Linked DNA regions of Homo sapiens: region 1 is linked to region 2. A link means that fine-mapping ties the variant in region 2 to the expression of a gene that starts in the linked region. Tissue or cell type: whole blood. Region 2 holds a variant in brackets; the other region holds the start of a gene. All regions are shown on one strand. Distances are from middle to middle. Region 1 holds the start of ZNF883 (zinc finger protein 883). Region 2 has its middle 22 kb from the start of ZNF883.

Region 1 (5,391 bases), 22 kb after region 2:
TCAAACCAGGAGGTGGATGTTGCAGTGAACTGAGATCATCACGCCACTGCACTCCAGCCTGGGCGACAGAGCAAGACTCCATCAAAAAACCAAAACCAAAAAAAAAAAAACAAAAAAAACAAAAACCCTCCTGCGCAGCAAGAAACAACAAAATAAAAAGATAAAAAAGCAACCAACAGAATTTATTTTTTGGAGAAAATATTTTCAGACCATATATCTGATAAGAGGTTAATATCCAGAGAGTTAATATCTGCCTGACAAAGGAATTCCTATGCATCAATGGCAAAAAACAAATAACCCAATTAAAATTGGGTGAAGCATCTGCATAGTCATTTTTCCAAAGAAGACATACAAATAGCCAACAGGTATATGAACAAGTGCTCAGTATCACTAGTAATCAGGGAAATGCAAATCAAAACCACAATGAGTTATCACCATACTTCTGTTAAAATAGCTATTATAAAAATAAATACATAACAGATGATGTAGAGGAAACAAACCCTGTGTACTATTAGTAGGAATGTAAATTGGTCCAGCCACTATGGAAATCAATATAAATGTACCTCTAAATATAGAATTACCCTTTGATCCAGCAATCTCACTTTTGGGTATATATCCGGAGGAATGGAAATCTGGATCTCAAAGAGATATCTGCACTTCCACGTTTATTGCAGCAGTATTCACAGTAGCCAAGATATGGAAACAACCTAAATATCTATTGGTGGACAAGTAAAGAAAATGTGGTATATACATATAATGGAATATTATTCAGCCTTATTAACAATGAAATCCTGTCATTTATGACACCATGGATGAAACTGGAGGATATTATGCTAAGTGAAAGAAGTTAGGCACAGAAAGACAAATATTGCATGATCTCACTTATATGTGGAATCAAAAATAGGGAAATACATAGAAACAGAAAGTAAAATGGTGAAGGGGCTGGTGAGGGAGAAATAGGCAGGTTTTGGTCAAAGAGTACAAAGTTTCAGTATTTATTTATACACAATAAATAAGATCTGGATGTCTTCTTACCATAAAGAGCCTATGATTCACAATAGTGTATTATATACTTAAAAATAAGTAAAGAGGGTAGATCTCACATTAAGTGTTCTTACCACAAAAGGTGGGGGAAGCCCAAAGGGGTGGAAACTTTTGGAAGTGATAGATGAATTTATGGGATTGATGGCATGATGGCTTAATGGTTTCACAGGTATATATACTTACCTCCAAACACATCAAGTTGTGTATATTAACTGTGTACAGTTATATCAATCATAGCTCAATAAAGCAATTTTTTAAAGTATGTATAGTTTTATACTTGAGAATATCTAATTATACAGAATTTGTATATATATGCATAGAAATTACATATTTAAATATATAATAGGGAGTATCTTGGAGTGAACTTTTATCTGACTAATTTTGTTCTTTTTCCTTACCTCTATTCTCTGTTATCTACAATCTGTCTATCTATCTATATTCGTTTGTTTAAGAAAAAAGTTAGATATACATATTCCCTCTTCATTATATTCGTTTTTCGGACGTTTTTGTCAAGAACAGATGTGGAGGAGTGAACAGATTACTCTACAAGGATGTTCATCAGTATACTATTTTTGGTAGCACTGAAGGGATCATAACCTAAGTTCCTAACAGGAAGAAAAAAGCTAGAAAAAAATCTACCCCAAAAGTATGACCTCATTCTTGGATGGAATCTCTCTGGTGCTTGCTCGCTGTCTCTCTCTCTGCCCCCTGTCTCTGCCCGCCCCGCCCCCCCGCCACCGTCCCCTCAACACACACTCATAACAAAGAAGCTAGCTATAAATCAGAGATTTACTTTTAGAATGCTAAAAAATATTAATCACTGCGTTAATAAATATTTCTGCAATGAATCCATCTGGGTAGTTTGGTTTTTTATCTGTTGAATAAAGAGTTATTTATAAATCATCTATTAATGTAGTGAATAGGTATTACTTTTGTGTCTGGGGTGTTGTTAACGCAAACTTTGCATCTCTTTGGATTTACAGTTGTTTATAGCAAAAGAAAAAATCTTTTCCTTTTTTCTTCTTTTCATGTAAACAACGATGGAAACGACGCACGTTCGCAACCCGCAAAGCATTAGAAAGACACCGGTGAAAGACGCAGCTCAAGAGGGCGCTTTGCAGAAGATGCTGGGAAATGTAGTTCCTGGCGGCCGCGTGCGCAGGCGTACTTCCTGGCTTGGGAACCACATCGCCCGACCGTGCTCTTTATTTTTCGGTGGAGCAGGTGAGCTTTTTCTTTCCCGACCCTTGCACTCGTGTGGGAGGTGGGGAGAGAGGTCCCCTTCAAACACAACCATTCGGGCGGGTCGGGAGAGGCCTGAGAATGCATTGGCCGGGCCCGGGGGCGGAGGAAAGCCGATTAGGTCAGGCTGGGTATTTGGTTCACGTTGCAGTGGAGGGGTGGTGGTGACCTGGGCCAGCATCCCGCTTCAGGGTGAGGAGGAGGCAAAGCCGTGTCTGCTCATCCCAGCCTTAACAGTCAGGGGCTTGGGTTCTCTTCTGGGTTGGAGAGTCATGAGAACAGAGCTCAGAGCTTTTGGGCCTTGCTTTGACTGTGATGGGGGGCAGTTTATCTGGGGAGGGGCAACCACCCCAGACCTTGGTGGTAGGTAGACCTGGGAATTGCAAGAAAACCGTGATATACGTATTTAGTGCCAACTAGAATTTAGGTTTCCCGACATCCAGTTCTTGCTCTTTCCTCAGAAACTCACCTCCTCTCTAGAGATAGCTTGTTTCGTTTTACTGGTAAATTTCTGAAGTCTCTTCTATAAAGAACTGTGGAATTGATTCCCTACACTCTGCGGGCGACGAAGAGCAATTGTTTGTTCTTTGAGATGGCATTTGTGAATGCACTTCGAAAAATTGTATATGCTTTACAAGTATTGTTAACAAACAAAGAGGGAGCTGGTGCACTCGGTGCCACCCATCATGGGAGGATAAAGTTAGCCCTGTTTCTGGTTTGTCAGATTGGACCAGTGACCAGAGAGAGGAATGTAAGTGGCCTTTCACTTTGTACTCTGCAGGGAAAGAATCTGTTCCTAGATTCATTCTGACATTTTTACAGAGGGTGTGGGTTATATCCAGGTAGTCAGACAGGCTTCTCATAAAGACAGTCCTGATTTCTCAGGGCCCCTTTCCTTTTTCAGCTCTGCTTTCTCAGGTCTCTACTTACTTATATAAGATGGCATCAAGAAGAAGGACCTGACCACTGGCCCCTGACTACATGGTCTTTGGTGAGCAAAACTTTTCAAGGCATTTGTACCTTAAGCTGGGTTTAATTTCTAAAGTTCCATCTTGCAGTGTGGAAAAATCATATGCAATTAAACGTCCCTTGATAATCTCTTTTATTGCTCATTATTTGCTCTCAATTTTTTTTTTTTTTTTTTTTTGAGACAAGGTCTCGTCCAGTTGCCCAGGCTGGAGTGCAGTGCACGATCTTGGCTCACTGCAACCTCTGCCTCCTGGGTTCAAGCGATTCTTCTGCCTCAGCCTCCTGAGTAGCTGGAATTACAGGCGTGCACCACCACGCCCGGCTAATTTTTGTATTTTTAGTAGAGATGGGGTTTCACCATGTTGGGCATCCTGGTCTCAAACTCCTGACCTCGTGATCTGCCCACCTCAGCCTCCCAAAGTGCTGGGATTACAGGTGTGAGTCACCGTGCCCGGCCTAATTTTTCTTTATAACTGACAAATAAAAATTTTATATATTCATCATGTGTAACATGTTGTTTTGAAATATGTATACGTAGTAGAATGGCTAAATCAAGCTAATGAACATGCATCACCTCACGTACTTTTCATTTTTTGTGGTGAGAGCACTTAAACTGCTCTCATAGCAATTTTCAAGAATACATTGTTATGAACAATAGTTCATAACGTGTATGCACATGTAATGTGTATACAACCATGCAATAATATACATGTGTAAATGTACCCCGACTATGTTCTTTAAACATTAAAATAACTCAGCATAGCAAGATGCTCACTTACGAGAGGGCTGTAAGAAGTGAGACTGAGGAAACAGGAGATTCTCCCATCTCACTCTTACCTTTAGATAACATACTTTCTTGAGCCTGTTGGGCAGATTTGTACAAATAAAATATACATGTGTGTCTGTAACGCAGCTCTGCTGTATTTTTTATTTCCTGAAATATCACCTCTGTCCAGAGGGAGGGAAAATTTTCTTTCTTTCACTCACTGAATAAATATTCATTGAGCACCTACTTTTTGCCAGCTAATGTTCTAAGCATTGGGATATAACAGTGAATAACACAAAGTTTCTGCCTATGTGGAACTGACAGTCTTGGATGGGCACACAGACAATAATGTAAACACAGATGTTCCTCAACTGAGCATGAGGTTACATTCCAGTAAATGTGTAAGTTGAAAATATTAATTCAAAAATGTACTAATTCACCTAACCTACTGAACATCATTCATAGTGATGAATAGAGGAAACTATACCAGAGTAATGGGGCTAGGGAAGGCATAGGACAGCTGTTATTTAATATAGGGGAGTAAGAGAAGGCTTCACTGGTAGATGACATTATAGAAAATGAGAATATGGGCCGGGCGTGATGGCTCATGCCTGTAATCCCAGCACTTTGGGAGGCTGAGGCAGGCAGATCACGAGGTCAAGAGATTGAGACCATCCTGTCCAACATGGTGAAACCCTGTCTCTACTAAAAATACAAAAATTAGCTGGGCGTGGCGGCATACGCCTGTAGTCCCAGCTACTCGGGAGGCTGAGGCAGGAGAATCGCTTGAACCTGGGAGGTGGAGATTGCACTGGGCCGAGATCACGCCACTGCATTCCAGCCTGGGCTACAGAACAAGACTCTGTCTCAAAAAAAAAAAAAGGAATATGAGCCTTGTAGATACTTGGGGAGGGGAGGGGGATTAGGGAGATTAAGTTCCTCAGCAGAAGCAACAGCAAATGCAAAGCCTCAAGGTGCAGATGTGCTTAACCTTTGTGGGAGCATCAGGAAGGCCACGTGGCCAGAGAGGGGTGAGTGATAGCAGCACAGTAGGAGTTGAGATGAGAGAGGTAAGGCGTGCAGACCACACAGCACACAGGCTAGTATGGCCACAGCCAGTTTGGCTTTTATGCTGAATGAGAAGAGAAAACGTAGGAGGTGATGGTGTTCGGTGTTATTGTTTATTCAGCTCTATTAAGATTTACATATAATTTACCAATTTTCATAGGGTTTTGAATAGAGAAGTGACATAACTTGACTTAGTTTAAAGGAACAATTTTGGATGCTCTGTTGAGAATAGAGTATAGGGTAGCAAGGTCAGACATGGATACTGGCTAGGAAGCTAAAGCAATCATCCAGGTGAAAGATGG
Region 2 (5,391 bases):
AAGACAGTGTATCTGTATCCTTCTTATAGGAAAGAAACAAAACTGAATTTAAAAACCTTCACCCTCAAAATTTATATCCAGCAAAAAGTATTATTCATGAATGACTGTGAAATAATCACATTTTTCAGATAAAAGAAAACTAAAACAATGTATACCCAGAGAACTCTATGGTTCTTCAAGTTGAAAGGAAATCATAGTAGATGGAACCTCAGAAAGCAATGATGAGTATCAGAAAAGGTAAATATGTTGATAAATATAAAAGACTGGTTTTTGTTTTTAAATTCTTTAAAATATTTCAGATTATTTATAACAAAACTTATTATCTTATATGGAATGTAAGGTATTAAATGCAATACATATGACAAGTTTACATAATGAAAGGAGGGCACACCTATCTTATAGCAAGTTTAAAATAAATTTCATGTGATATGGTACAATATTAATTTCAAGTAGACTGTGAAAGCCAAGGATGTATAAAGCAATCTATAGAGAAACCACTAAGGAGTAATGCAAAGAGGTATAGCCAAAACACAACAAATAAATTAAAATAAACCTCTACAAATATTCAAAAGTTCCTGATGGAAGTATGAAGAGAGATACGGAGGAACAAAATCTGAGGGGACAAACAATACAAATAATAAGATGTTAGAGCTAAATCCAACCCTAACCATAATTACATTAAAAGTTAATGGACTAAACATTTCAATTCAAAGACAAAATTTTCACAATGGCTAAGAAAGTGAGACCCAATCTCTACAACATCCAGACTTTAGAAACCACAGATATGTTAAAAGTAAATGAATTGAAAAAGATATACCATAGAAATAGTAAGCATAAGATGTCTGAAATGTCTATATTCATATCAGACAGAACAGAATCCTTGATAATTAGTATGAGCAGAGATAAAAAGGAACACTTTAAAAATATAAAGGGATCAACTCAACAGAAAGACATAACATTCATAAGTGTCTACGCACCTAAACAGAGCTCCAAAGTACATGAAGCAGATATTGGAAGAATTAAAGGGAGACACTAACAATTCTACAATCATAATTGGAGATTTTAATATCCCTCTTTAAGAAATTGATAGAACAGTGAGAAAAATCAGTAAGGACAATGATTATCTGAAGAACGCTATCAGCAACCTTGATCTTGACCTAATTGATGTTTATAGAACCTGCAACTGCAGAATATACCTTTTTTTCCAAGTGCTCAGGGCATGTGCACTAAGATAGGAAATACATTGGGGCACAAGACAAGTCTCAATATATTTAAAATAATTGTAATCATACAGAGTATGTTATCTGACCACAATAAAATTGTGTTTGAGTTCCCTGGAGGCAGGTGTTGAAAAGGAGTTTGTCTTACTACTTTTTGTGTTGCTGTAAAAGAATGTCTGAGGCTGGGTATATATAAAGAAAAGAACTGCTTATAAAGAGAAGTTTATTTAGCTCATGGTTCTGCTGGCTGAGAAGTTCCAGGACATGGCCCTGGCTTCTGGCAAGTGCTTTTGTGCTGTGTCACAACATGGCAGAGAAGGTCAAAGGAGAAGTGCATACATGAAAAGGGGAAAACCTGAGGGGTGTCCTAAGGAGAAGTGCATACATGAAAAGGGGAAAACCTGAGGGGTGTCCTGGCTTTAAAACAACCCACTCTCATGGGAACTAATTCATTGCTGTGAGACCTAATCCAGTCTCATGAGAGTGAGGACTCACCACTATGAGAACAGCACCAAGCCATTCATGAGGGATCCATCCCCCATAACCCATACAACTACTATTCTAGCCTGTATCTCTCAACACCACAACATTGAGAATCAAATGTCAACATGAATTTTGGTGGGGACAAACTATATCCAAATAATAACAGAGTTGGAGTTATCAGATATTTATTAGAGATCGACACCCATGAAAGGAATGGAGAGAAAGAGGATTGGGCAGAGGAAGAAGTTGAAATTTTATTGCAAGCCTAACGAAGCCTTGCCAACCTGGAGAGGAGCTCTGGAGTAAATGTTTCCCCCAGCTGAGTGTCCTGCCTTGAGCTTTATACCTCCACCTTGCTCATTCACAAGATGTAGGCTGTCTTGCAAAGGGCATGACTTTAGGTAAGGGAGCTCTCTGTAGATGAGGCCCACTGTGAACTAGCTGATAGCTAGAAGTTGTCTTCTGATGGCACTCCTGTCATCTAGGCAACAAGTCCTTCCTTAAACGAGAATCTGGGCATGCAACTCTGTGTCTATTACAGTCCATTCCTTGCTCGGCTCAGATATAATTATCCGTATATGTCTGGGAAGTACTTCCTCCAGGATTTCTGTATGCCTCTATGCCTGAGGAGGAATTAGAAAAGGGAGATTAGTGGGATGAACCACGGCCCCTGCTGCTACACTGATCTCAGGGTCACAATAGGTAACTAACTCATCATCTCCCTTCTTCATTATTCATTCTCAGCTATCAACTCTGCTGACCTGAGACATTGGTCGTTATGCCCTTCTCAGTCCAGAGCTGCTGGGCCAGTGCATTCATATCAAAATTAGACGAGAGATACTAATCACTAGATTTCACATGTGTTTCTCCCTGCCCACATTGTGCGATAGCA[G/A]TCCATTTCCTACCGATATCAGTGTTATTTACCTGTACCAAGAGAGTGACTCCTCCTCTTTCCTCCTGGTCCCTGAACACAAAGAGCTCAAAGTATCCAGGAAGTAGCCATAGTTTATAATTTACTGAGACTAACAATGTGTCCTCTGGTGAAAATGTGCCCCCTTTAGGGACTAGTGCCTCTTACTAGAATTGGCATTGGCAGTGATGGTAAATAGGCTCCACTCCCACTCTCATCTCTTGGTTAGTGGACTGATGTATTCTTCCCAGTGGATGCACACCACCATATAAAGTCTTTGATTCAACGCATACATTGTGCAGGAAAGTTTTTGTAGGGAAAAGAAAGAGAGATCAGATTGTTACTGTGTCTATGTAGAAAAGGAAGACATAAAAAACTTCATTTTAATCTGTACTAAGGAAATTGTTTTGCCTTGAGATGCTGTTAATCTGTAACTTTAGCCCCAACCCTGTGCTCACAGAAACATGTGCTGTATGGAATCAAGGTTTAAGGGATCTAGGGCTGTGCAGGATGTGCCTTGTTAACAAAATGTTTACAGGCAGTATGCTTGGTAAAAGTCATCACCATTCTCCATTCTCAATTAACCAGGAGCACAGTGCACCATGGAAAGCCTCAGGGACCTCTTGGGCTTTCTTGGTCCTTTTTTCTATTGGGTTTTTGATCAATCCCTTTATAATTTTCTGAAGAAATGTGTTTCTTCAATAATAATTTAAAATTTGACTTTGTTTTTGGTTCCACTGTGAATTTAAAATTTGTTTATGTAATCAATTTTTGTTTTCTTGATTTCTCTTGTTTTTGATCTCTTGTGTAGCTTGGAAACTTCCTCCTTTATACCCAGGGATCACTGTCCACTAGGAATTCACTCTCTTATAGGCCTTTTACTTCTCCTTTTCTTCTGTAGTTTTCTTTGCTTAATCTCTGACCCGTTTAAATCATCTTGAGCTTTCCCACATCAGTCTTTGACCTGCTTAAATTCTCTGAAATTAAAAATACCATCTTGTAACCTGCATTCTCATCTTTCTTTCCCTCAACACACAAGCTTTTGAAAACTGATACTATCTTGGTGTTTCTGCTTCCTCAGTTCACATACACACTTCAGTATCATGCAGTAGAGCTTCTGTGTTCATCATTACTCTGAAACAACTTCTATAATACGAAGTCCATCTTGCTGTTATCAAATCCAAGGGATATTTTCTTGTCCTTAACTTAGCAGATTTTTTTGTTGCATCTAACATTTAATCCTCCACTCTTCCTTGAAATATGTCACCATTTGTTCTTTTGACGCCGCCTTCCTTCATCTTCTGCTCCCTCTGTTTCTCCTTTATTTCTTTCATCAGCACCTCTTTCTCTTCTTATCCTTTGCCAGTTGGTATTTTCCAGGGCTTCATCTTTTGTGCCTTGCATTTCCTTGTCTGTGTGGTTTTCCTGATTGATTACATCTCTTGTTTATAATAATCTATAAGAATCGCCTCTTTTAGATGTGTCTTGATCGTATTTGACTAACTGGAGACAATATTTGGATTCTAAATTTGATTGCAGTAAGTAGCATAATAAAATACATTTGTGTTGCAGTAAGTGCACATATGCACACGTCTGCAGCACATAAGATTTGTTGAAGCGAACTAAATATGGCCTGAGAAGGATTCTGTACTTCTGTGTTTGAGTCCTTGTGGATAAACTGTAACCTAGCTTAATAGGCAGACAAGATTGAAAACCTAACTTAGAAGTGTGGGCCTGTAACAATAGCTGAGTCTTGGCCAATCCCAGCAGCCGTACTTCAACCACGCATAGACTGCTAAGTGTTCAAACTGTGTTCAAATAAGGCAAATGCCAACCTGTAACCAATCCAGCTATTTTTGTACCTCACTGCCAGTTTCTGTATGTCCCTTCCCTTTTTTTGTCTGTAAATTTGTTCTGACCATGAGACATCCCTGGAGTCTCTCTGAATCTGCTGTGATTCTGGGGGCTGCTTGATTTGTGAACCATTTACTGCTCAATTAAACTCCTTTTAAATTTAATTCAGCTGTTTTCTTTTAACAGATTTGATATATATTTTTTCCTCATATGCATAATACCATTTTCATGTAATGAAATTTCCATTTAATACCTTTTCCATGTAATACCATTTTCATGTAATGTCTGATTCTTGCCTCCTCTCACCTTATATCTAGCTGGGAGTGGAAGGAAACATGGAACAGAACATCCAACACACCATGATCATCCCGGAGTTTTTGGACAGTAAGAATTACTTTCATTGTTTAAAGTAAGGTAGACATCATACACTAGTGGAGTAACATTTAAAAATTCACCAGAATGCATTTGTTTATTTCCAATTTTTTATGTGGTAAAATACACATAACATAGAATTTACTATCTTCATCATTTTTAACAGTACAGTTCAGTGTTACTAAATGTATTCATAATGTACAACCATCACCATTCTCCATCTCCATTACTCTGTTCCTCTTATAAAACTGAAACTCTATACCCATTAAAAAATAACTCCTCATCCTCCCTACCCTCCTGCTCCTGGAAACAACCATTCTACTTTCTGTCTTTATGCTTTTGCCTAATCTAAGTGGTATATTTTGAATGTGTGCCTCAAAATTCATGTGTTGGAATTTTGGTCCCTGGGTAGAGGTGTTGGGAGATGGAGCCTTTAAGAGGTGATTAGGTTGTTAAGAGGAATTAATGCCACTCTCCCGGGACTGGGTTAATTCTTGCTGAAGTGAGCAAGTTCTCACTCTTACAGGACTGAATTACTAACCACTAAAGCCA

What was found. PIP is the estimated chance that this variant, and not a neighbour inherited with it, causes the effect.
Region 1: it holds the start of ZNF883, and the variant in region 2 is the best candidate, but not a certain one, in a credible set for the expression of ZNF883 in whole blood (TOPMed, PIP 0.73).

Annotation. Positions count from the first base shown.
Region 1 is chr9:113,009,027-113,014,417 of GRCh38, reverse strand. ZNF883 (zinc finger protein 883) reads left to right here and starts at 2,226. Exons shown (of 5, transcript NM_001101338.2): 1 at 2,226-2,268; 2 at 3,191-3,277.
Region 2 is chr9:113,031,145-113,036,535 of GRCh38, reverse strand. No RefSeq gene overlaps it. Among named protein-coding and RNA genes, the nearest start is that of ZNF883, 22 kb to the right of the region's middle. The variant G/A (reference allele first, on the strand shown) is at 2,596.